Linked DNA regions of Homo sapiens: all the other regions are linked to region 2. The links come from fine-mapping of genetic effects on gene expression. A gene starts in region 2. Each other region holds a variant in brackets. All regions are shown on one strand. Distances are between the middles of the regions.

Region 1 (8,182 bases), 33 kb before region 2:
CCTCCATCTCGACAGGGAAAGTACAAGAAAGCATGTCTTCTAGCTTAGAGACAAAAACCCTTTAAGGCAGTCAGAGCCAATGGCATGGTTTACCTTTTCTGTTTTTATTATAACATTGTTTTGCCCAGAACCTACCACCCATTTGCTGAGGAAAGTGTGCTGGCTGACTTTGACAGGCAAGTGGGGCAGGAACAGGTGAAAAGGAAGAAATCCACTATCAGTATTTCATCATAAACTGGGCAGAACAGAGCCTCAACCTGGATCTGCCTTTACCACTTCAAGTGCTGTGAACTCTTGGCTTGTGCCACATTTTCTCTCAATGGGCCACACTTGCTTTCTTTACTGACATTTATGCCTAGTGCAGTGGAGAGACAAGAGGATGGGCAGCAGGCCAAGTAGTTCTGGGTGGCCCTGTGGTGCTGGACTCACCGTAGTCTTGGACTTGCTCTCTGACCATACGCAAGTCACTCCTCTTTCAATTTCTGCGCCTATAAAATGCATGACTCACCTCACAGACACCGAGAAATACCAAGTGTTCCTGTCTTTAAAGAGAAAGAGTTATTAAAAAAAAAAAAAAGCTACTGTAGATGTACCTATCAGGCTATTACTAGACCAAAGCTAAAACCAAGGCCAAAGCCAGCTTTGATTTCATTTCAAGGCCTGGAGCAAGGAACCTACTCTCAGAACTTTAAAGAAGCATGCTGTTTAAAGTCAGCTTCCCAGCCTGCAATTTAGATTCAGACTCACACACACCCCACAGTGGAGACCTTAGTTCCCCTGCAGGTACACACAGTAGGACTTGAACCAGCAACTTTGCCTTTTTAGCTAAGCAGTAATGGATTGATTGCATTTACAGCCAGAGCCTGATTGGCGTGCCGGCCATATTTGCTGACAAAATTCAGTCACGTGATCTGCAAAAGGATGTTTTAATTATTTGTGAATTTATTTCTATGAGAAGTTTACAAAGGAATAAATATTAAATCAAATGCATTTATGCATTTAGCAAGTCACTCTATTTAAGAACAAATTGTATACTCAGGCCATCATGAGCTCCTTAAAGACCACTGTGTTTTATTTATTTTTAAATCCCCATCTTTAAAATACCCTTAAAATAGTTGGCGATCAATAAATGTTGACTGACTAATTAGTTATTCCATCAAACACGATTTCTATAGTCTATTGCAGGGATAAAAGGGAAATAGAAGATGTAGTCTTTGCCACCAATTGGAGGCGATAGGGCAAACAGATTAAAGAGACATACAGCGAAAGGACATTGCACAGTGAAAGCCAATTTGCATTTATATGGAACTTGCCTGGTTGGGCAATATTGATCACTCATTCATTTAATCTTTCATTTTTATCATTCAATAAATATTTTGTAAGCACTTTTCGATGAGATAACAAAGAAGAAGGCTGTGTTAACTCTGAATTATGCTCAGTTCTCGAGTCTTCTTTGACTAAACAGGCAAGAAATGGGCAATTCCATGGACAGTGCCCAGAACTGCTACTTTAGAGAAGCAAAAAGATACTACAAGGTTTCAAGGGAGAAAATGGATCCAGTCTAGGGGTGACAGGCGGGTCCATCTCAACCACCAAAGAGCACCTGCTTTCAGTGACATCATTTCAAACATGAAGAGTAAAGAAGGGAAGGGCAACGTGGAATTTAGGAAAAAAGAACTCCTTCCAAACTCAGGAACTTTAATAGTCCGTAAGCAGGAATTTTGACAAATGCTTTTGACTCAGAGATTTAGAATTGTGGCTTAATAAAACTAATAAACTAAAAACCAATAAAAATAACACAAATGACCTTCTACTGTGGATAAAGGCAACCCCACTATCATTCATTTCACTATCAGCTCTGTCCAGAGGAATAAAATTCACCTTCAGCCCCCTCTTTACTGTGGATTCCTAAAACTGTGGCCAACCAACTCCCAATTGCCCAATTTCTCCTGTGTCTTCGGTGGGGTTCCCAAGAACAGGAGGATTCTTGAGCAAGTGATTCATCAGGGCAGTGTTCTCAGGAGGAGGCGAGTGAGGAGGCAAGAGAGCACAGGGTGGGGAAAGTCAAGGAAGGATGTGGTCTCATCTGGAGACCAGCTTCAGGCTGATCCCTCCAGGGAGCTTGGGAAACCCAAAGTGCACCACACAGGCAATGCCTCCTTGATGCAGGGGGCTGAGCTTTTGTATGTCTGGGCCAGACTGCCTTTTGGGAGCCTTGACTCCCAGGAGAAGGAGGGGCTGTGAGTTGTCATCAGCCAGCAAAAGGGACCTGGATGGGGCACTCCTAGCACCTACCATGGTGAAATATACGAACCGCTGAATACAAGTGAGCTCAGTGAAGGGAGATGCTAATCCCCAAACCATACATCTTGCCATTATATTGTAACAATAAGTAATTCAAAATCAAAGCTGTTTCTACATCCCCCAAAGCACCTCAGACTCAACATATCCCAAACCAAAGTGTCACCTCACGTCCCCCATGTCACCAAACCGCTTCCCTGGTATTCTCTTTGTCGATGGGATTCCATCATAATGAGGTCACTCAAGCTACTGACTTCTCTCTCTCTCTTTTTCTCTCTCTGCAATCTGTTCCACATTTAATCAATCACCAAGTCCTACCAGTTTTACCTCTTAAAGGTTCTTAAACATATTGCCTGACTCTCCCTCTTCATTACCACTGACCCAGGGCAGATCCTGGTCATATCTCACCAGATCTCCCTGCCTCCAAATGCGTCCTCCCCAAATCCAACACCTCCCACCCCATTCCTGGCTAAAATGTTCAGTGATCTCTTTCTACAGAAATGTCCAAGCTGCTGACCTTAACTTTCAGCAGCTTCCCTGAACAGGCACCAGCCCATCTCACTGACTTATTTTTCAGCACTTTCTGACTTGCACTTTATTTTCTAACCACACTAAACTGCTGACTGTTGCCTTGCCCACAGAATGCTGCTCTCCATCCAGGCCTGGACTGATACTGTTCCCTCTTCTGCTAATGCCTTTGTCCTCTTTATCTGGCTCGCTCAGATCAGATGGCACCTCTCCAGGAAGCCTGCTGTCCTCCTCCTCCTCCTCTTCCTCAGACTGGGTTCAGTATCCTTCCCCTGTGTGGTTGTTTTTTTTTTTTTTTTTTTTTTTTTGAGACAGAGTCTCGGTCTGTCGCCCAGGCTGGAGTGCAGTGGTGCAATCTCGGCTCACTGCAAGCTCCACTTCCTGGGTTCACGCCATTCTCCTGCCTCAGCCTCCCGGGTAGCTGGGACTACAGGCGCCCACCACCACGCCCGGCTAATTTTTTGTATTTTTAGTAGAGACAGGGTTTCACCATGTCAGCCAGGATGGTCTTGATCTCCTGATCTCCCACCTCAGCCTCCCAAAGTGCTGGGATTACAGGCGTGAGCCACCG[T/C]GCCTGGCCCCCCTGTGTGTTTTTTTTGTCTTTTTTTTTTTTTTTTTTTTTTTTTTGAGATAGAGTCACTTCGTCACCTAGGCTGGAGTACAGTGGTGAGATCTTGGCTCACTGCAACCTCTGCCTCCCGGGTTCAAGCGATTCTCCTGCCTCAGACTCCTGAGTAGCTGGTACTACAGGCATGCACCACTACACCTGGCTAATTTTTGTATTTTTAGTAGAGATGGGGTTTCTACTAAACCCCCGGGCTGTTGGCCAGACTGGTCTCGAACTCATGGACTCAAGTGATCTGCCCACCTTGGCCTCCCAAAGTCTTGGGATTACAGGCATGAGCCAGTGTGCCTGGCGCCCTTTGTCTTTTACATAGCAAGCCACTGCAATTGCTACATAATATTACAATTATGTGCCCCCTTCCCTAGACTGTGAGCTCCCTGAAGTTAGGAAATGCTGTGCCTTATTTGTATTTGTATCCTAGGTGTTTAATATAATAACTGGTACTTCGTAGGTACTTAATAAATGAATGCTGAATTGATGAATATTTATTGAGCCCTCCCACCCCCTTGAGACAGTGTGCCATTTGAAGAAACTAGATTAGTGTAAACTCATATATAGTTCCCTAAGGTGGCAGGAGGCACTTCCAACACTAAAAGAACAGTACCAGACAGCATATATTTCATTTCAGAGCTGCAGAAGGTGATACCATCAACAACTTGGGGATGCGGGATGAGAGAGATCAGAAATGGCCTGGGAAGATTTCAGACCAGGAAGAGAGCAGCCCAGAAGGATGGGTTACAGAGAATTGGTGGCTATCTCACCCTGTTACCATGCTATGGTTTACCCACCACCAAACTGGTGGAAAAGTGAAATAGTTATTGATTCATTTGTCAACCTTAAATAACATGATTTAGAACATATGATTAGGTATAGAGTTTATTGGAGCTCAAAGCCAGGAATAGCCATCCAGGAAACACGGACTTCAAAGAAGTGGAGCCAGTGATCTAAAGTAAAAAAAGTTAAAGTCGGCCAGGTGTGGTGGATCATGCCTGTAATCCCAGCACTTTGGGAGGCTGAGGCGGGCAGATCATGAGGTCAGAAGATCGAGACCATCCTGGCTAACATGCTGAAACCCCGTCTCTACTAAAAATACAAAAAATTAGCTGGGCATAATGGTGGGCGCCTGTAGTCCCAGCTACTCAGGAGGCTGAGGCAGGAGAATGGCGTGAACCCGGGAGGTGGAGCTTGCAGTGAGCCGAGATCCCGCCACTGCACTCCAGCCTGGGCGACAGAGCAAGACTCTGTCTCAAAAAAAAAAAAAAAAAAAAAAAAATTAAAGTCTTGCTTATACAGGCAGAAAACAAAGAAATTTAGTAGGATTAGAACATTTCATCTTAGACAATGAGATAGTTATGAAGTCTTTGTGTCAGAAAGGTAAGAAGGAAGTGAATCTATAATGAAGATCAATAGTGAAGGTGGAAGGGATCTTCCCTGGCACCCTTCAGTCATTTACAACATTTTACAAAACAATGTGGGTAAGAAAGAAGGCTAATCTATAATCAGAGAAACAAAGGTTACAGCTGCCTATTTATGTAACTTGAGTCCCATAATCACACTCCTTCAAGGTTCATAATATTTTAAAGTTCCAACAGCCTTGATTTTGAAATACTTATTTTCACACATTCAACAAATATTTGTTGAGCATGTACAATGAGGCGCAGACCTAGGTGCTGGGGGATATAGCAACAAACTCAGAAGGCCTTATGTCTGCTCTCATTGAGCTTACCAGGTGGTGGGGAGACAAAACACAAAAGTAAGCAAAGAAATGTATCATTACACATAGTAATAAGTCCCTGTGAAGGGACTAAACAGGATGGTGGGAGAGAAAATAGCAGGAGGACAGGGAAGGTCTCCCTGAGGATGTGGTTTTAAGCTGAAGTTGGCAAGGACAGGAAAGAGAGGGAGGAGGAGCATCCCAGGACACAGGCCCGAGGGACTGCCCATTCAAGAAACCCAGAGGCCAGTGCAGCCTCAAAAATGTGGGCTGACGGGACACAGTGGCTCACAACGTAATCCCAGCACTCTGGGAGGCTGAGGCAGGAGAACTGCTTGAGGTCAGGAGTCTGAGACCAGACTGGCCAACATAATGAGACCCTGTCTCTACAAAAAGTAAAAAATAAAAATTAGTGGCCAGGCGTGGTGGCTCACACCTGTAATCCCAGCACTTTGGGAGGCCAAGGCAGGCAGACCACCTGAGGTCGGGAGTTCAAGACCAGCCTGACCAACATGGAGAAACCCCATGTCTACTAAAAGTACAAAATTAGCTGGGCGTGGTAGCGCCTGCCTATAATCCCAGCTACATGGGAGGCTGAGGCAGGAGAATCACTTGAACCTGGGAGGTGGAGGTTGCAGTGAGCTGAGATCCTGCCATTGCACTCTAGCCTGGGCAACAAGGGCAAAACTCCATCTCAAAAAAAAAAATTAGCTGGGCTACTTGGGAGGCTGAGGCAGGTGGATTGCTTGAGCCCTGGAGTTTGAGACGACGGTGAGCTAGGATCGCACTACTGCATTCCAGCCTGGGCAACAAAGCAAGATCTTGTCTCTAAAAATATAAACATTTTAAAATAAAAAAAATAATAAATTTGAAAAGTAAATAACAATAATAATTTTTTAAAGGTGGGCAAATGAAAGCAAAGCCCGACAGTATCTACAGTGGGGCAGGCAAAGACAGAGCAGGTGGACCCAAGTCAGCCAGGATAAGTTTAGATTTTGTTCTAAGTACTACAGCTGGCTGAGCAAGAGCTTTAAGACAGAGATGATGTGGTGTGATGTATTAATCAGTGCAGTTCTTGCGCTGCTATAAGGAAATACCTGAGACTGGGTAATTTATAAAGAAAAGAGGTTTAATCGGCTCACAGTTCTGCAGGCTGTACAGGAAGCACGGCAGCATCAGCTTCTGGGGAAGCTTCAGGAAACTTACAATCATGGTGGAAGGCAAAGGGGAGTAATGAATCTCACATGGCCAGAGCAGAAGGAGGAGAGAGACAGGGAGGTGCTGGACACGGTTAAACAACCAGATTTCAAGAGAACTTAACCCCTACACAGCACCGAGGGGAGACTGTGTTAAACCATTCATAAGAACTCTGCCTCCACGATCCAGTCACCTCCCATCAGGCCCTACCTCCAACGCTGAGGTTACAATTTGACATGAGATTTGGATGGGGACACAGATACAAACCATGTCATGTGATTTACATTCATATTGGAATACTCAGGCTGCTGGGAGGAGACAAGATTGAAAAGGAATTTGGGAAGAAGGGAGAGCCATTGGGGGTGGTTAGGACTAGGATTAAGCTATTTAACTTTTCCCTTTGGAAAGATTATTATTTACCCCATTTTACAGCTGAAGAAACTGAGCTTCAGAGTTGGGATGGAGCCCAAATTTTGTTCTATCCCTGAATTGGTTCTTAAATCCCAGCTGCCTCCTTTTTTTTTTTTTTTTTTTTTTTTTGACAGGGTCTCATTCTGTTGCTCAGGCTGGAATGCAGAGGTGCAATCACAGCTCACTACAGCCTCAACCTCCTGGGCTCAAGTGATCCTCCCACTTCAGTCTCCCGAGTAGCTGGGACCACAGGTGTGTGTCACAATATCTGGCTAGTGTGTGTGTGTGTGTGTGTGTTTTGGTAGAGACAGGTTTTCATCATGTTGCCAAGGCTGGTTTCAAACTCCTGGCCTCAAGTGATCTGCCCGCCTCAGCCTCCCAAAGTGTTGGGATTACAGGCGTGAGCCACCACGCCCGGCCTCTTCTGTAATTCTTGTGTTCAGTTGCACATAACTTCCAGACTGGCAAAGATGAAAAGGAATGATAATATCCATTTTTGGCAAGGAAGTGGGGGAAAAGGGACTTCTCACCCACTGCAGGTGAGAATGTGAATTCATTCTGTCTTTCCAGGGGAAATCCAATGACTGAAAGAGGCGCATCCTCCTACAGCCACCATGTCCAGTTTTAGGAATCCTAAAAATAAATAAATAAATGATCTACTGAGCCAAGATGTTTGAAAAAGTCTTGTTTGTCAGTATTTGTAAGAGTGAAATAGTGAGAAAATGGGGTTACTCAAAGATGCACGGTATGATCCCATTTTGTAAAATGTATGTTTATACATATAGAAAAAATTCTGGAAGAGTCTATGCCAAAATATTAAGAGGAGTTATTTCCAGATATTGGCATATGTGGAGATTTTGTTGTTGCTGTTTTTTTTTATTTTTTTATTTATTTTATTTTATTTTATTTATTTATTTTTTGAGATAGAGTCTTGCTCTGTCGCCCAGCCTGGAGTGCAGTGGTGCGATCTCGGCTCACTGCAAGCTCTGCCTCCTGGGTTCAAGCAATTCTCCTGCCTCAGCCTCCCAAGTAGCTGGGACTACAGGCGCCCGCCACCACGTCCGGCTAATTTTTTTTGTATTTTTAGTAGAGATGGGGTTTCACCATGTTAGCCAGGATGGTCTCGATCTCCTGACCTTGTGATCCGCCCATCTCGGCCTCTCAAAGTGCTGGGATTACAGGTGTGAGCCACCGCACCTGGCCTGTTGCTGTTTTTTAAAAATCTGTTGTGTCTAATGTTTCTAAATCAAAAGAAGTTCACATTTTTAAATTAATAAATAATAATTGTACATAGTCATGAGGTATATAGTGATGTTTTGATATTTATAATATATAATGATCAGATCACAGTATCAGCATATCCATCATCTCAAACACAAAAATGTTAACTTTTTATTGAAGTATAA
Region 2 (8,182 bases):
TATTCCTCTACCACTTCACAAATCCATTTCTGTTCCCATGCATTGCAGTAGGCATTAAGATTGTCCAGCTCCAAAATTATGGTCAACTTACTGTTTGGATATTTATTTGAATTTTCAACAAAATTTTCTTAATTTAACTATTTATCCAAATATTTACTGAGTGCCTACTAAGTGCCAGGCACTGTTCTGGTCCTTGGGATACATCAGAAATAGAACAAAGATTGTGGCCCTTGTGGAGCCCATAGTCTAAACAGGGGTGACAATGAAAATAAACATAAGAAATAGACAAATTATGTAGTATGTTAGAAGCTGATGGGTGCTATGAAAGAGATGATGTTTAGAGTTACAGGTTACACTGTGATAAAAGAAACACTTCAGCCAAATTAAATTTAAAGTTTAATTGAGCACAAAACAATTCGTGAATCAGGCAGCCTTCTGAGCCAAGGTAGGCTCAGAGACTCCCGCGCAGCCACACGGTGGGAGATTTATGGACAGCAAAAGGAAAGTGACATACAGAAAATGGAAGTGAGGTACAGAAACAACTGGGTTGGTTGCAGCTCAGCGTTTGCTTTATTAGAACACAGTTCAAACAGTTGGCTACATTTGATTGGCCAAAACTCAGGGATTGACACAGGTGTGGGCTATGGCCTGTTTACACCTTCATTTGTTATAGCTCATGATGTACAGAAAAACCTTTAGGCTGAACTTAAAATATGCAAGGAGGCAGCTTTAGGCTAAACTTGATTTAACAACTGTGTCAACTCTCACCAATGCCACCCACCTCCCCACACCCCCCAAGAAGGGACAGAGAACATACATGTTTTTTAATACTATTGTTTTAGGGAACATTTGTGAGATGAGGTCCATTCATGTGTGGGGTCCAGGGCAGAGGCCCCTCTTGCCTAGTTTAAGGGCAGTATTAAGGGTAGACCTCATTGAGAGGTGAAATTTGAGCAAAGACGTGGAGGAGATAAAGGAGTTAACAACTGCAGCCATGTGGAGAAAACAAATTTCAAGCAGAGGGGCCGGCCAGTCAGTGCAAAGCCCTTAAAGCAGGACTGTATCTGGCATGTTTGGTAAACAGTAAAGAAGCAGGTATGTAGGTAGTGATGGGAGAGTAGAAAGAGACGAAGTTTTGAGGAGCCAGATGGTGTTAGAGCTCTGTAGGCCAATTGTAAGGACTTTGGCTTTTATCTGAGAGAAGCGGAGAGCCAATGCAGATTTTTGAGCAGAGATGTGACATGATTTGATTTATATATCCATTTAGTCACAAATAATTTTTAAAGGTGTTTTGGAGAATAATTAAATGTGAAATTATGCACATTTACGTTGACTGTGTTGTTTTAAGCTGGGATGTTACAATCTCATTGAAGATTATAATTCTGGAGTCAAATTAGCTGAAGACTTTCCTGCTTAAAAAGTTTTCCAGCATGTGATACATGCGTAAGTAGAGCTTTTTTAATTATTATTTTTTTTTTTGAGACGGAGTCTCGCTCTTTCACCCGGGCCAGACTGTAGTGGCGCTATCTCAGCTCACTGCAAGCTCCGCCTCCCGGGTTCACGCTATTCTCCTGCCTCAGCCTCTCGATTAGCTGAGACTACAGGCGTCCGCCACCGCGCCCGGCTAATTTTTTGTATTTTTAGTAGAGACGGGGTTTCACCGTGTTAGCCAGGATGGTCTCCATCTCCTGACCTCGTGATCTGCCCGCCTCGGCCTCCCAAAGTGCTGGGATTACAGGCGTGAGCCACTGCGCCCGGCCAAGTAGAGCTTTCTTCTATATACCTATTACTTTACTTTTTTCTTCTTTTTCATGTTCTTCACTACACATTTTGTGTGTGTTCCTAGGAAATCTTTTAAACTAAGTTTTATTTGATATGTATATTTAGTATCGATGTTCTAAGATACTATTGAATAAAATACATACTGCAGTAGCTTAGTTAAAATACTGGAACCGAGGCCAGGAGCGGTGTCTCATGCCTGTAATCCCAGCACTTTGGGAGGTAGAGGTGGGTGGATCACCTGAGGTCAGGAGTTCGAGACCAGCCTGACCAACATGATGAAACTCTGTCTCTACTAAAAATACAAAATTAGCCGGGCATGGTAGCACATTCCTGTAATCCCAGCTACTTGGGAGGCTGAGGCAGGAGAATCACTTGAACCCGGGAGGCGGAGGTTGCAGTGAGCCGAGACTGTGCCACTGCACTCCAGTCAGGGAAAAAGAGTGAAGCTGCATCTTGAAAATAAAATAAAATAAAAAACACTGGTACCGAAAAAAATAATAGTCACAAATGGCATTACTTTGTGCCTTTTACAAACAAATAATACTTTGAGGGCCAATTGTATACCATTATCATCTAAAGTCTGTCTCATTTTCTTTGCTTTAATGAAATCATGATAATCTATTATTTTCTACTCAAGGTTAACAGAAACTGGCTTGTTACTTAATATTTCTTTGACTTCTTTTGTCCATTAAAAAAGGGGGGTGTTTTTAAGATTAGTGGGTGAAAGTTGATGTATAAATAAGAGTAGACACAGCTTTAGGTAAAATGACGAAACAGGTTAAGTTTGGCTTCCTCTTTTTGTTTCAGTTCAGGCCCATGCACCTAGCACAATACTTAGCGCATTGTAGGTGCTCATTATATACTGCTTAAATGAGTGATAAGTTCCCTGAGACATTTATTTCCTGCACTTGTTAGGGTTCAGTGAGCCGATATCCGGCCACTGCCCTCCAGCCTGGGCGACAGAGCGAGAATCTGTCTCAAAAAAAAAAAGATAAAAAATAAAAATAAAAGACTACCTGCCAGAGGAAGTGGGCAATCTTCGCCTAAAGATATGAACTGCTAATGGTTAAACATCAGACGTCAGAGAAGACATATTTTAAAGTGGGGAATTTTCCCCAAGAGCACCCTCTAAACCACATCAGTGGGCAACTTAACGCACTTTGCTTGTCATTGGGTTAGATGGGAGTTTGAGGAATTGGGAGTAACATTTGGTATATAGGCTTGGGACATAATATCCTGAATTATTTCTATTTCATAATTCCTGTGCAAAAAATTATGGGAGTTGTTGATTCTACAGCAATTCCTGTCAATTTGTAGATTATCTGCTTATTAATAGTTTGTATTGTTTGGCAGAACTTGAAAACTACCGAACGATTACAGTTCAGGCTTTTTCCCAGTACCTCTGGCGTTGCTGTCTCAGTGACTAGGAGGTGAGGAGGGTGGCCCTTGAAATGCCAAACTGCCTACCGCAGCAGTCTGCCAGCAGCGTGCTGGGCCCAGAGCCGGGGATGCAGCCAAAACATCCTGGATTTTACCTACAGCTCCCACCCTCTGGAGGGACTGGTCTATTAGGGCATATGACACTGACAGTGCGCACTGTATACAAACCGTGTTTGAACAGGAGTCGGTTGGAAAATACACCACTGCACTGAATTACTTCTGCAGTGGCTTTGCAAAGCTCTTTTTGTTTCTTGAAAGAAGCCGACGGTAACCATTACAATATGGCTTTTTCCAGGTCCCAGAGGAAGGCTAGGGGTGCCTTGTGGGTAACCCTTTCTCCCTCTCCTGACTCCTTCCCGTTATTTCTTCTATCTTCATCCTCTAGACCTACACAATGGGACAGGTTGACAGTCTGTGTTGAATGGAAGAGGCGGACGATGCGCTTGTGTTTGGTGCTTCTCAAACGGTGCTCGCACTCCCCAGGGTCTGACGCAGCCCACTACGCAGAGCCCTGGGAGGAGGTGCGGACCCAGGGTACGACCCCCGACCGCTGAGAAACCCAGACCGGGCCCCGGCTGCAGCCCCGCGGGTCGGCCCGCCCCCCTGCCTTCCCTATTGGCTCGGCAGTTCCACGCGTCACGCCTGCGACGCCGGCGCTGCCCTCCCAGAGGAGGCGGGGCTTACACGCGCGAGGCGGAGCCAAGGGCGCACGCGCAGACGAGCGGGTCTGGGTCCGGACGAGGGGAGGGAGGGGGTGGTGTTCTCGGTTTCCTGGGTTACCTGGGCGGGCGGGGGTGGGGAGTGCGCGGCGGCGGCGGCAGCGGCGTCGGCTCGGGGTTCTCCGGGAGAGGGGGAGTGCGCGGCGGCCGCAGCTGCCACAAACCAGGTAAAGGCGGCCGCCGGGCGCCGACGCTGCCGGCAGAAGGTTCCGGGTCCCGGCCCCTCTGCGTGGCCTGGAGGGGAGGCGGTTTGGGGCTGGTGGCTGTCAGCCTGGGTTGAGGGCCGGGACCGCCGGGCTGAGGGCGCGAGGGCGCGAGGGCACTCGGCCTGACGCGCCAGCTCGGGGCGTCCTCTCTGGCTTCTGGGCTCTGGGACTTCTCGCGGCGCCGGGCCGCCTTTGACAGCCGCCGGGCCGCGGGCGGGAGCTCGGCTGGGCCCCTCTGGGCCATTGCAGCGGCCACTGGGCACTAACTTTATTTCGCAGCGCGCGGGGGGCGAGGTCGAGCAGGCTGACGGCGGTGTGTTGCTACCTTTATTTTATTTTTTGATCCTGTGCCGCTGCACTACTCAGCCCAGCTGGGCCCAAGCTGTCAGGTTGACGATGGGAGTTGACGGTTTCCGCGCCACCACCCAGCCGGTCACTCCCCGCGCTGTTGCCCTGCGGCGCTCGCCCACCTGTCACCTACACCGTGCGCCTCGGTCCGCTCTTTCCTCCTGTCCGTGACACCCTTTGACTGGGCGAGAGCCTCTCTTTCCAGGGGATCCCCTGAGACATCTGCCGTCTGTCTCCGGTATCACTGGAGCCTGACTGAGATGCCCCTTCGCTTCTGATGAGTTAAATAAGCTGGGAAATTACCCGAGAAGACCCCGGTACCACAGTGTAAAGCCCAACGAAGGGGTTGTTTAATGGTCCAGGGGATACAGAGGCTTTAAGAAACGTTTCCTTAACGCTAATTCTTATCTGGTTAAACAAAACATAGCAAAACATCCCCGATCCGCTCGGCAGACCATACACACCCAGCGACGGCACTTGATAGTTAATGGGGTTTGTTTTAAGCAGATAGAAAATTTTAAGGGAGTCGAATCTTGTGTTGAATGCGTTCGTGTTGAATTTGGGCCAGTGTTTCCTTGAAGATCAAATGCAGGTTGCATTTTCCTATTGTTTGTTTAACAGATTGATAGGACAAACTGAATTAGACTTTTCTTCCTGATGATTCTTGGCTCTTCTGCGCTATTATTTTAAAATTCCACGCCTAGATTCATCTATGCTAATAAAGATGTTGACTTTAAGCTTTCAATTTATAGATGTAGTTGATTAATATGGGGTATCTGTTTTAAAGAGCTTTGTTAAGTGGCCAACAACTCTTTTTCTGATAGCTCTTTGCTGTCATCCATATTGTTACTACAAAGATTGGAGAATTTGAAGAAGAGAGGGCATAAGGAAAAATGAATTGCTGTAATTTGCATAAAAATACTTCACAAACTATATAATTATATATATGTATTTAGTAAATATTTATTGAGCACCTACTGCGTGTCAGATACTTTTCTAAGAAAACATAAATATCTGCTCCTTCATGGAGCTTATATTCTAGTGGGGACCTCAGATAATAAACAAATAAAATATGTGCTGTGTCAGATGGTGTTAAGTACTACAGAGAAAAAGCACGGAAGAGGGAGGGCAGGGAAGAGGGAGGGCAGGGAACCGGGAGAGGTTTGCAATTTTAACTAGAGGCAGCCAGGGAAAGCTTCCTAGAAAAGATATCATTTGAGCCAAGACCAGAAGTAAGTGAGGGGTAATCCATGTACCTCTCTGAGGGAAGGATGTGCTAGCAGAGAGGAAGGCAGAAGGGCTTGCAGAAGCCCTGTGTGCTGGGCTTGTTTGAGGACAGCAGAGAGGCTGATTTGGCTGTGGTGGAAAAAGCAAAGAGGAGTAGAAATAAAGTCAAAGAGGTGAGTGTGGTGGGAGATTAGACTGTATAAGGCCTTGTAGGCCCTTTTAAGGACTTGAGTTTCTACTCTCAGTGGAAAGGGGAGTCCACTCTTTGAGTAAAGAACCTTACCTTTTATTTTTAGTTTTGAGTCAGGATCTCACTTTGTCTCCCAGGCTGGAGTGCAGTGGCATGATCACAACCTACTGCAGCCTCGACTTCCCAGGCTCAGGTGATCCTCTCACCTCAGCCTCTGAAGTAATTGGGACTTCAGGCACACATCACCCACCATGCTTGGCTAATTTTTTGTAAAGATGGGGTTTCGCCATTGTTGCCCAGGCTGGTCTCAAACTCCTGGGCTCAAGCGATCCATCCACCTTGGCGTGTCAACATTCTGCGATTGTAGGCGTGAGCCACTGCGCTCGGCCCCAGGCTTGCCTTTTAAAAATGATCATTCTGGGCGCTGGATGGAGAATAGACTTTGTTGTAGGGGAAGGGTTGAGCAGGAGCAGAAGCTGGGATACCAATCCGGAACTGTTGCCCTAATCCAGGCCAGAGATAATGTAGCTTGGACCAGAGTGGAATTGGTGGAGGTGGTGAGAGGTCATTGATTTCAGGATAAATTGAGGGTAGAGATGTAAAAGACACCAAAATTTAGTTCCGAACAAGTAGAAAGATGGGGTACTTGTTTACTGAGATTAGGTTTACGAGAGGAGTAGGTTTGGTGGGGAGAAGGGTGGGAGTTGGTTAGAAGACAATAAAATTAGACATTCACGTTTTTAAAGAAAAAAATATTCAATGATACTTGTTTAAGAATGGTAAGTAAGGCTTTATTCAGAACCATCTCAATAGGTATAGAGACCTCTGCAGTGGGGCCCTGCAGTAGGGGAGGGAGACTGGGCTCAACTCCGAATACAGCATGAGAAAATGGGAATTTATAGCCAAGCAGCAGTGTGGGGATCGTGGATGGAAAATTGCTAAAAGGAAACATCAGGGATAAGGGGGATTCTGGCTAAGCCGACCTAACGGGATTCTTGCTGAAGACAGGCCAGGGCGATCAGACATTACCTGGGGAATGGTGGAGGATGAGGAACCTGATCAGATATTTAGGATGATTAGATATCCAGGATGTTATGCTAAACAGACTTAGCAGGGTTCTTTGCTAATACTGGATTTTACAAGGAAGTGCACAGATGGGCCTCACAGAAAATTCAAAAGCCTGAGTAAGTTTGGCCAAGCAAAGAATTTTTGTCAAAGCTGAGATTATTAGTAGTAAACACAAGTGACTTTGTTTTGAAGACACTTTTTACGTTACCTTGACTATACCAGGGGGTTAAAAATTTCACCCATAAACTGCCAGCTTTGATTTCATGATTATTTTCTTCTTAATTCTTTTGGACCAACCTAGTCATTCTTTTCCCAATTGTAGTTTTATTTTTGTTTGATTGCACTCACATAGTGTGTTTGTTAGCTTCGGTTGTAGAGAGAGCCATATAGTCTGGAATTTCAGAGTACCTTTTTGGTCTGTTGCTGTATTTAACTTGAACACCTTCATCTGATTAATCTTTTCCTGAATTATCTGGTTGCCGGCTTAAGTTCAACATTTTTTTTTTTTTTAGACAGAGTCATTCTCTGGTTTCTCTTCAAATTGTATAAATCTTTCGCCTTTTACTAAAGATTTCCGTGGAGACAGAGTCTCGCTCTGTCACCCAGGCTGGAGTGTAGAGGCGAGATCTTGGTTCACTGCAACCTCCACCTCCCAGGTTCAGCCAATTCTCCTGCCTCAGCCTCCAGAGTAGCTGGGACTACAGGTGTGTGCCACCACACCCGGCTGATTTTTTGTGTTTTTAGCAGAGATGGGGTTTCACTGTGTTAGCCTGGATGATCTCAATCTCCTGACCTCATCATCTGCCCTCCTCGGCCCCCAACTGTGCCTGGATTACAGGCGTGAGCCACCGTGCTGGGCCAAGTTCAAGATTTTTTTTAAGCCCTAAAATGTTATCAAGTGTGGCTTTACTTGGCCATTTGCAAAATTACAAAGGAAATGACTCATTTTTAATACTTTGTAATGTCAAAAGACAAAATTACAACAAATTTAGCTTAAAGATCTTACTTCACCTTTGCCATTGTAGAATCAGGCAACACCTCATTTTATAAAATAGAACAAGTGTTCTCATGAGCCGAGCAGAAGTGGTTGGTTTTATGGTAGTCTCACTTTATCTTGAAGGGGTGTGTGTGTGTGTGTGTGTGTGTGTGTGTGTGTGTGTGTGTTTGTTTGTTTTGAGATGGAGACTTGCTGTGTTGCCCAG
Region 3 (8,182 bases), 77 kb before region 2:
GGAGGCTGAGGCAGGAGAATCGCTTGAACCTGGGAGGCAGAGGTTGCAGTGAGCTGAGGTCGAGCCATTGCACTCCAGCCTGGGCAACAGAGTGAGACTCTGTCTCAAAAAAAAAAAAGAAAGAAGAAAGAAAATTCCCTATTGAGCAACTTCTCTGTTCCAGACACTGTGTCAGGTATCATGGAGGATGCAGAGACTGTGCAACTTGGTCCCTGACTACTTTAGGACAAGGAGGAAAGCACGAGGACTTAAACGAAAACACGAGGCAGAGGAGCATGCTAACCATACGGCTCTGCCAACACTAAGAAAAATCCATCACTTCTCCAAGGTTGAATTCCAGTGAGGCAGTTTGTCCAGCAACTGTACATTGCCATCTTTTGTTTGTTTGTTTGTTTGAGAAAGAGTCTCACTCTGTCACCAAGGCTGGAGTGCAGTGGTGCGATCATAGCTCACTGCAGTTCTCAACCTCCCAGGCTCAGGTGATCCCTCTCACCTCAGCCTCCCAGGTAGCTGGGACTACAGGCATGCGTCACCATCCCCAGCTAATTTTTTGTATATTTAGTAGAGACAGTGTTTCACCATGTTGCCCAGGCTGGTCTCAAACTCCTGGGCTCAAGCAATCCTCCCACCTCGGCCTCCCTAAGTGCTGGGATTGCAGATGTGAACCACCATGCTTGGCCTACGTTGTCATTTATAATGCACATTCCAGCCCTGGCTCTTCACCCCTTCTCTATAAACAGCAAACCACAGCCCTGTTGGAAGTTCTCACGGGAAAGCAGCTAGCGGAGTGTGGGGCCTCAATTGTGTGCCCTTTAAAGAACCTCCACTTATTAACCTCAAACATGAAGTTATTATTGAAAAGGAGAAGACAGACTGCCTGCCTTAACCAAGGGTTGTGTTTGCAGGGTTCCTTTCTGGGAGCTGCAATCAATAACCAAGACCTGGTTCTAGAGGGCAGTAGTGACACACCCATTCCAAATTGCAGACAGTCCAAAATTACCAGACCCAGGGCTCAGCCCTTTCAGAAGGACACAGTGGGCAGCATAGAAATAGAAGATGAGTCGAGCCCACTCTGCCGATTGCAGGTCACGAAATTACCAGATGATGCACTGAAACAGGGCATCAAAACCAGGCGAACAGGGGGAGCTTGGAGTAGGAGACTCACTCTTCACCTGGTCATAGAAGGCGGGGAGTCCCTAGCCTGGTCATGGGGTAATGAAAGCTTGTGCAAGGAACACTGTGTGAAATATTATGCAAAACTCTTCCGCCAAACGAAATGCTGCAAAGGACTTCTCTCCAGACGGAAAATGGAACTAAACCTAGTATCGCTTAGGGTGGAAGTCCAATTCACAAAAACTCCCTTGGTGCTCTTCTGGACACTACAAAATTAGCCCCGCCCACAGGTCCACCCTACAACTGGGTCTGAGTCCAGACTCACAGGCAAGTTCAAGCATGTGGGGCCATCTTTGCCCCACTCAGTGCCCTTTCTGTATACTCAGTGCAAACAAGAGTTTTCGTAAGCAGACCGCCTCCAGAGTTTGAAAACCATTCATCGTCAGATCTTAGGCCAGACTTCCAATTTAGGGCACTTTGCCCTCAGCCTCCGTGTGGTTTCTTTTTTTTTACAGGCCTCAACTGTGAGAAGATCCGTTCTCACCACCCCTCAGTCCCTCTGCGCTTTGCTCTTGTCCTACCAGCACCCTTCCCCTGCCAAAGATGCCCCTCCCCACTTCCTTACTCTCCCCCAGCCTCTGTGCCGGCCCCAGAACATGAGTACATGTGTGAGTGAGCACATGCGTGTGTGCCTGAGTGCACATGCATATGTGTGTGTGTATGTATGTGTGTGTGTGTGTGTGTGTGTGTAGGTATGTGTGTGTGTGTGTGTATGTATGTGTGTGTGAAGCTGCCCCTGAGGTAGAATCTGGTAGATGGGGCAAGAATTCATTTATTCAACTCAATTGATTAGGCACTTACTATGTGGGGAGATACAACAGTAAAAAGACAAAAATCTGGCCGGGTGCAGTGGCTCACACCTGTAATCCCAGCACTCTGGGAGGCCAAGGTGGGTGGATCATGAGGTCCGGAGTTTGAGACCAGCCTGGCCAACATGGTGAAACCCCATCTCTACTAAAAATAAAAAATTAGCCGGGCTTGGTGGCGTACTCCTGTAATCCCAGCTACTCAGGAGGCTCAGGCAGGCAGGAGAATCGCTTGAACCCGGGAGGCGGAGGTTGCAGTGAGTCGAGATCATGCTACTGCACTCCAGCTGGGGTGATAGACAGAGACTCTGTCTCAAAAAAAAAAAAAAAAAAAAAGACAAAAGGCCCTGCCCTCCTAGTGGGTGATGGCCCCTAGGAGCTGTGCGTTGCTAAGCAGGCCAGGGAGACAACTCTAGGATACCAGCAAGGGCCGCCTCCACAAAACCAGAGAGAGGCCAGCTTGTATGCCTCTGGGCGGTGCTGTCACCCCACTCCCATCCCATCCCAGTGAGGTGCTCTCCTTCCCCTCGGCGCTCCTCTGTGGAAGCATTCTTTCTCCCATAGGTATTTGCAGTCTGTGAGGACCAAAGCCTGTGGCAATCTCAACATCACCTGTAGAAAGTTTTTCTTTTAGGGGGAGGTTGTAGCGGGAGGTTGTGGGGGGACAGAGTACATTTTCCAGGCCGTCACAGATCCTGAACTTAGGACTGGCCTCTTTCCTTCAGTAGCCACGTTGGCTCTGTGTCCAGGAGAACAGTCACTGTAGATCCACGGAATGGCTGTCGTGTGTCTCTGTTCACTACCGTGGAACGCAGGGGGTCCCAGGAAGGTGAGAAAGCCAGGGCTGGGTGTTGGGCTGAGCATGGGGGAAGGAAGAGAGCTGGAAATTACTGTCGATCAGGTAGGGCAGTGAAGGAGGCTGGCAAAGTTGGTTAAGGTAGGAGGATGCAGGTACTCAAAGGTCACAGAATCACCGGAAAATGATATTCATTGAGTTCACTTGTCACTGTGTTTGCTCATGGGAGGTAGTAGAGAGAGCACACTGAGATGGCTTCCCATTCAAATCCTCCTCCTGTTCATCTCCAGCTGCGTGTCTCCTGATGAATTATTTAACCTCTCCGGGCCTCCTTTTGCTCATTTGGAAAATACTTTTAATTGATACTTATTTTAGAAGGAGGTTGTAGAGATAATGAATAGGAAGGGCAGGGCACATTGAACAAGTTTCATAAATAATATGCACCATAATCATGGCACTTAATTCTTATAGCAAGTCTTAAAGGTTTATCTCCTAGGAGGAATTTTAGAGATCTTCCAGTTCAGCGGTTTTCGAACTTTGGCCTGCATCAGAACCTCCTAGATAGCACGTGTGTTAAAACACAGATTTCTGGGATCCACTCCCAGAGGCACTGGTTCAGTAGGTCTGGGTTGGGACCAGAGAATGTGCATTTCTAACTAGTTCCAGGGCGATGCTGAGGTCGCTGGTCTGGGGACCACACTTTGAGAACCACTGTGCTAGCCTAAATTCCTCATTTTGCAGAGGACGGTCCTGAGGTTCAATCCTGTTAGCTCCTTCCCCATGGTCAATAGAGTCAGCCTCCCAGATCCAGGTCCAGGCCAAGGTCAGGAGATCCAAGCTGGGAGACAGGAAAACAAAGTACAGCATTCAGGAAATGTGAGGATGCAAAAAGCCACACTCCAGGCAATGAGCCCCAGGGACGGACCCAAGGTTCCAGCGAGAGGAATGA[T/G]CTTAGCAGACAGCAAACCATTGCTGTGCTCCGGAAGAGAACTGGCCTCAGTGAGGTCCTGAGCCACAACAGTCCACGTGTCTGGCCTCAGGGAGCATGTGTGTGTCAGGGATGGGGGGATAAGGATTGTGTGGGTGACACAGGAGGGTGAGAACCGAGTGTAAGTGCATCTGTGTGTGTGAGTGCTTCTGTGTGTCAGTGTTTTTGGGTGAGGGTGTGTATTAGTACGTGTGTGAATATGTGAGCTTGTGTGAGTGTGTATGTCAGTCTGCTTGGGTATCATCACGATGCGTCACACACAGCGTGGCTTAAACCACAGGAATTTATTAGTTTACAGTCTGGAGGCTGGAAGGCCAAGATCATGGTATTGAAATGGTAAGGATGGTAAGTTATATATGTATATTTTATCTCAACTAAAAAGACGAATAATTTTTTTAAAAGATCATGGTGTTGGCAGGGTTGGTTTTTCCTGAGGCCTCTCTCCTGGGCTTGCAGATGGCTGTCTTTTCCGTGTCCTCACAAGGCCTTCTCTTTGTGCGTGTTCATGTCCTGATCTCCTCTTTGCATAAGGACACTGGTTAGACTGGATTAGGACTCACCCTCAAGATCTCATTTTGATATAATTACCTCTTTAAGAATCTATTTCCAAATAAGGTTGCATTCTGAAGGACTAGGGATTAGGGACTCAGCATATAAATTTGGGAAGGGGATGAGATTCAGCCCATAACAGCACATGTATACATGTGCACATGTGCATGTGTGTGTACGTGTGTACGTGTATGTGCATGTGTGTGATGGGCCCGGGAGCATGAAGAAGGTGCTTTACAGAAGGCCTGGTAATGTTGGGGAATACCTTGGTGACATCTTTCCCAGCAAGAGTTCTGGCAGATAAGAAATCTGACTTTCTTCTAGCCTCATCCTGGGTTTGTGAGTTTATGAAGAAGCTGAAGAGCTCCATCACTTCCCAGCTAAACATAGCTCTTCAGATCTCAGGGTTTAAGATGATTTCCTCCTAAGTCAACGCAGCATTTTGCCTCCATTCAAGCAACCCCTTGCTCCAAGCATCGTGATGTGACAGTGCAGCGTTCACCGGCCCACCCCAGCTGATCTGCCCTATGGCACAAGAATAACAATTGGAAAAACTTGGCTTCCCTCCGAGAGCAATGCCAGCTTTGCCCAGGCCAGCCATCTCTGGCATAACTCTGTTCATTTGAGCTTTCCTCATGTGTGATCATCCTTGTATGACCCCGAGGCCAGAATCCCCACTTATTAAAGCTAGGAAAGACATTTTTGAGGCTCTAGTTAGTTTGTTCTTTCATAGTGAAAGAACCATTTGTGGGCTCAAAGGGGGATGTGGCAATAGGTTATTTCGGGCTTTCGAAAGGCCTGTTTTCCATCTGGAATGGATGTATTACCTAATAGGCCATCCTTTATAGGAACTGAACAAAGACTCGCTGACACAATCTCAACGGTTGGCCGTTCTTGGGACAGCTAGACAATTATTTTGCTTCTGGGTACAACAAGCACAAAAGAAGGGGCCAAGGTACACGCAGACCTTAGTTTGAGTTGGAGAAGGCCTGAGGGATAAACCATCAGGAAAGCTCATGAGTTTTCAGAAGCTTCTGGGGCCATCAGGTTGATACCAGCGTGGATGCACCAGGCTGAGGGCTGATGAACCACAGGGCGGTAAATACAGGGCCCAGCCCAGGGCCTAGGGACAGTTCCCGCCCACTAAATGTTTGTTGATCAAATGACTGATTGGAGGAATGAAAAATATTATTTAAAGGAAGGCAAGTGTGTGAGCCAGGCGGGAAAGAGAGGGCTGGACGTGATGGAGAGAGGTTATAACCAGCTTCCTCTAGAAGGCTCATTGCAGCAACCACATGGCCTTTGAGAAAAGCTTTTCATCAGGAGACGCCTCAGTCTGCCTAAAGTTATGTGTTAAGTGTCCATTGTATGCAAAACAGTGGGAGGCAAATAAAAGAAGTCCTTTAGAAAATTTCCATTTCCTGCTTATATTTCATACAGAAAAACATAATTAAAGCTATAGACATAAGGAAAAAGACTGGAAGAAAAATGGAAAAATAATAGTAATTGTACCGGGGTCGTGGGATGATGGCTAAATTTATTTTCTCTTCCTGAGTTTCTATAATGCTCTTTCTTGGCTTTAACATCAAAATAGGGATTCAAAGAATCATGATTGTCTGCAGTTGTGATCGCTGCAGTCAACTCAGGACAGGGGTGCCTTTCCTGGAACCCATAGCTCAATTCAGAGGGTGGGGGGTTTGGTAACAGTGGAGCAAAGACCCCAGCAAGGCAAACCTGAGCCATTCTTGGGACAGGGTTGGTCTTGATGGGGCCACATCTCCACATGGTATCCCCCACTTAATTTGCTCCAATACCCCCAAAACCCGGCTTCGTTTTTTCGCTCCTCTTTATCCTTTTTCCCTTGCTCATTCATTCATCAAACAACTATCAAGCTCCTTCCTATGAACAATGAGTCCCATCAAGCCCTGGGAATACGTAGAATGAGAATCAGGTCCTGGGCTCACCACTTGCAGAGGAAGCAGATATTTAAACAAATGGAGCCAGGCACGGTGGCTCATGCCTGTAATCCCAGCACTTTGGGAGGCCGAGGTGGGCGGATCACCTGAGGTCAGGAGTTCGAGACCAGCCTGGCCAATATGGTGAGACCCCCCGCCGTCTCTATTAAAAATACAAAAAAGATCTGGGTATGGTGGCGGGCATCTATAATCCCAGCTACTCAGGAGGCTGAGGCAGGAGAATTGTTTGAACCCAGGAGGTGGTGGGTGCAGTGAGCTGAGATCACGCCACTGCACTCCAGCCTGGGCAACAGAGTGAGACTCCATCTCAAAAATAAATAAATAATAAAAAAACAAGTGAAGACAGAACAGGAACAGTGGAAGAGCCAACAGGCTCTCAGTGCCAGGAATCTGAGCATCAAGGAAGGGAGGCTTCCTGAAGGTAGCTGATATGTTTGATGATAGATGGTAGATGATATGTTTGAAGTGAGTCCCAAAGAAAAGGTAGGAACGCAAATAGGAAAAGACTTTCTGCAAAGAAGGAAATCTGTTTGCAAAGGTACAGCTCCAGAAATGCACAGTGGGTCATACACATTGTTTTTAGGAGGAACTGTGAGGTCATCAGTCTGGAGCCAAGGGTGCAAGGTGAGAGGGGAACATGAGTAGGCACAGCCAGGCATTGAAGGGCCTCGTCTACCCTACAAAGGTGTGTGGACTTATCCTACAGACATTGAGTTGCCTGAGTATTAAAGTAGCATGAAGACATGGTACCATTGGTTTTATAGCCAGAGAATTCTGGTAGCCATAAGTAGGGCAGGGAAGTGGGACCAAGGGCCAGAAGCGTGATGATGAAACCGGGTTGGGTGGTGGGGTGGTGAAAGCCTAAGCTACGTACCCAGCAGTGAGTGTCGACATGATACTGCAGTGCTGTGACTTGCAGGTCAGTTGGGAGGAGAATGAGGGTGGGGAAGCCAACGGGTTGATCTCTTCGCTCTGCCAGCACCAAGTTCTGGGTGCTCATCCACTCCCTGACCCACAGCTCTTTGCTGTCTAATGTACCCAGCACCTTGCAGCCACACTAACCTTCCCCAGGCAGTGTCATCTCATCCCTGTTCTCCCCAACCACCTTGTAGAGCATAATTGCATAAAGGTTAAATTCCCCCTTCATTTTTAAAAAATTAAATTATTTATACATTTTTAAAGCTATCTTTTGTTTTAGAGATAGAGGCTCACCCTGTCACCCAGTCTTGAGAGCAGTGGCACGATCACAGCTCACTGCAGCCTCAACCTCCTGGACTCAAGAGATCCTCCACTTCAGCCTCCCAAATAGCTGGGACCACAGGTGTCCACCACCATGCCCGGCTAATTTTTTAAATTTTTTGTAGAGATAGGGTCTTGCTATGTTGCCCAGGTTGGTCTCGAACTCCCAGACTCACATGATCCTCCAGCCTCAGCCCCTCAAAATGCTGGGATTACAGGGGTGAGCAACCACACCTGGCCAAAATCCTCTTTTAATGGCTACATTCCAAGTCCCCTATTCAGCCTTCACGCTCAGTATTTCCTAGTGTGAAATACCTCCACCCAAGACACCCTGTTATGTCCTCACAGAACCTGCCATTTCTGCACTGACACTCTGTCCTCACAGTGTCTCCAAGGGCTGCCCTCCTCTACCTGTGTGAATGAAATACATCCTCCAAGGCTCACCTCCCCTGTGAAACCTCCCCCACCAGGGTTCCTCATAGAAAGCTCTCCCTCTGCTGATTCCTATGGCATTTTTTCCTGACACTCTACCACTCTTGTTTTGCACTGTTACTTACATGTTTTGAACATGTGTCATGGCTCACAGAATAACGTAAGCTCTTTGTGGGAGAGAAGCCATGAGTATCTCTCAGAAGCCAGTATAAAGCTCCCTATA

Alleles and levels. Positions count from the first base shown, and alleles are read on the strand shown. Sizes are in standard deviations (SD) of each study's normalised expression. Not every link is listed here.
For the expression in esophagus mucosa of the gene that starts at base 4,045 in region 2, allele T in region 1 goes with a higher level than allele C (small effect, 0.19 SD a copy in GTEx).

Evidence for each region. PIP is the estimated chance that this variant, and not a neighbour inherited with it, causes the effect.
Region 1: its variant is the best candidate, but not a certain one, in a credible set for the expression of LYST in esophagus mucosa (GTEx, PIP 0.71).
Region 3: its variant is the best candidate, but not a certain one, in a credible set for the expression of LYST in whole blood (INTERVAL, PIP 0.66).

The regions. Positions count from the first base shown.
Region 1 is chr1:235,895,518-235,903,699 of GRCh38, reverse strand. The region is part of intron 2 of LOC105373215 (a long non-coding RNA gene); the gene reads right to left. Among named protein-coding and RNA genes, the nearest start is that of LYST, 33 kb to the right of the region's middle. RefSeq lists a silencer at 385-585. The variant T/C (reference allele first, on the strand shown) is at 3,401.
Region 2 is chr1:235,862,769-235,870,950 of GRCh38, reverse strand. LYST (lysosomal trafficking regulator) reads left to right here and starts at 4,045. Exons shown (of 53, transcript NM_000081.4): 1 at 4,045-4,108. It also overlaps the pseudogene RNU5E-2P. RefSeq lists silencers at 3,578-3,877, 3,928-4,347 and enhancers at 4,468-4,567, 4,938-4,987.
Region 3 is chr1:235,939,484-235,947,665 of GRCh38, reverse strand. All of the region lies in intron 2 of LINC02768 (long intergenic non-protein coding RNA 2768), which reads left to right. All of the region lies in intron 2 of LOC105373215 (a long non-coding RNA gene), which reads right to left. Among named protein-coding and RNA genes, the nearest start is that of LINC02768, 29 kb to the left of the region's middle. RefSeq lists a silencer at 959-1,028. The variant T/G (reference allele first, on the strand shown) is at 3,725.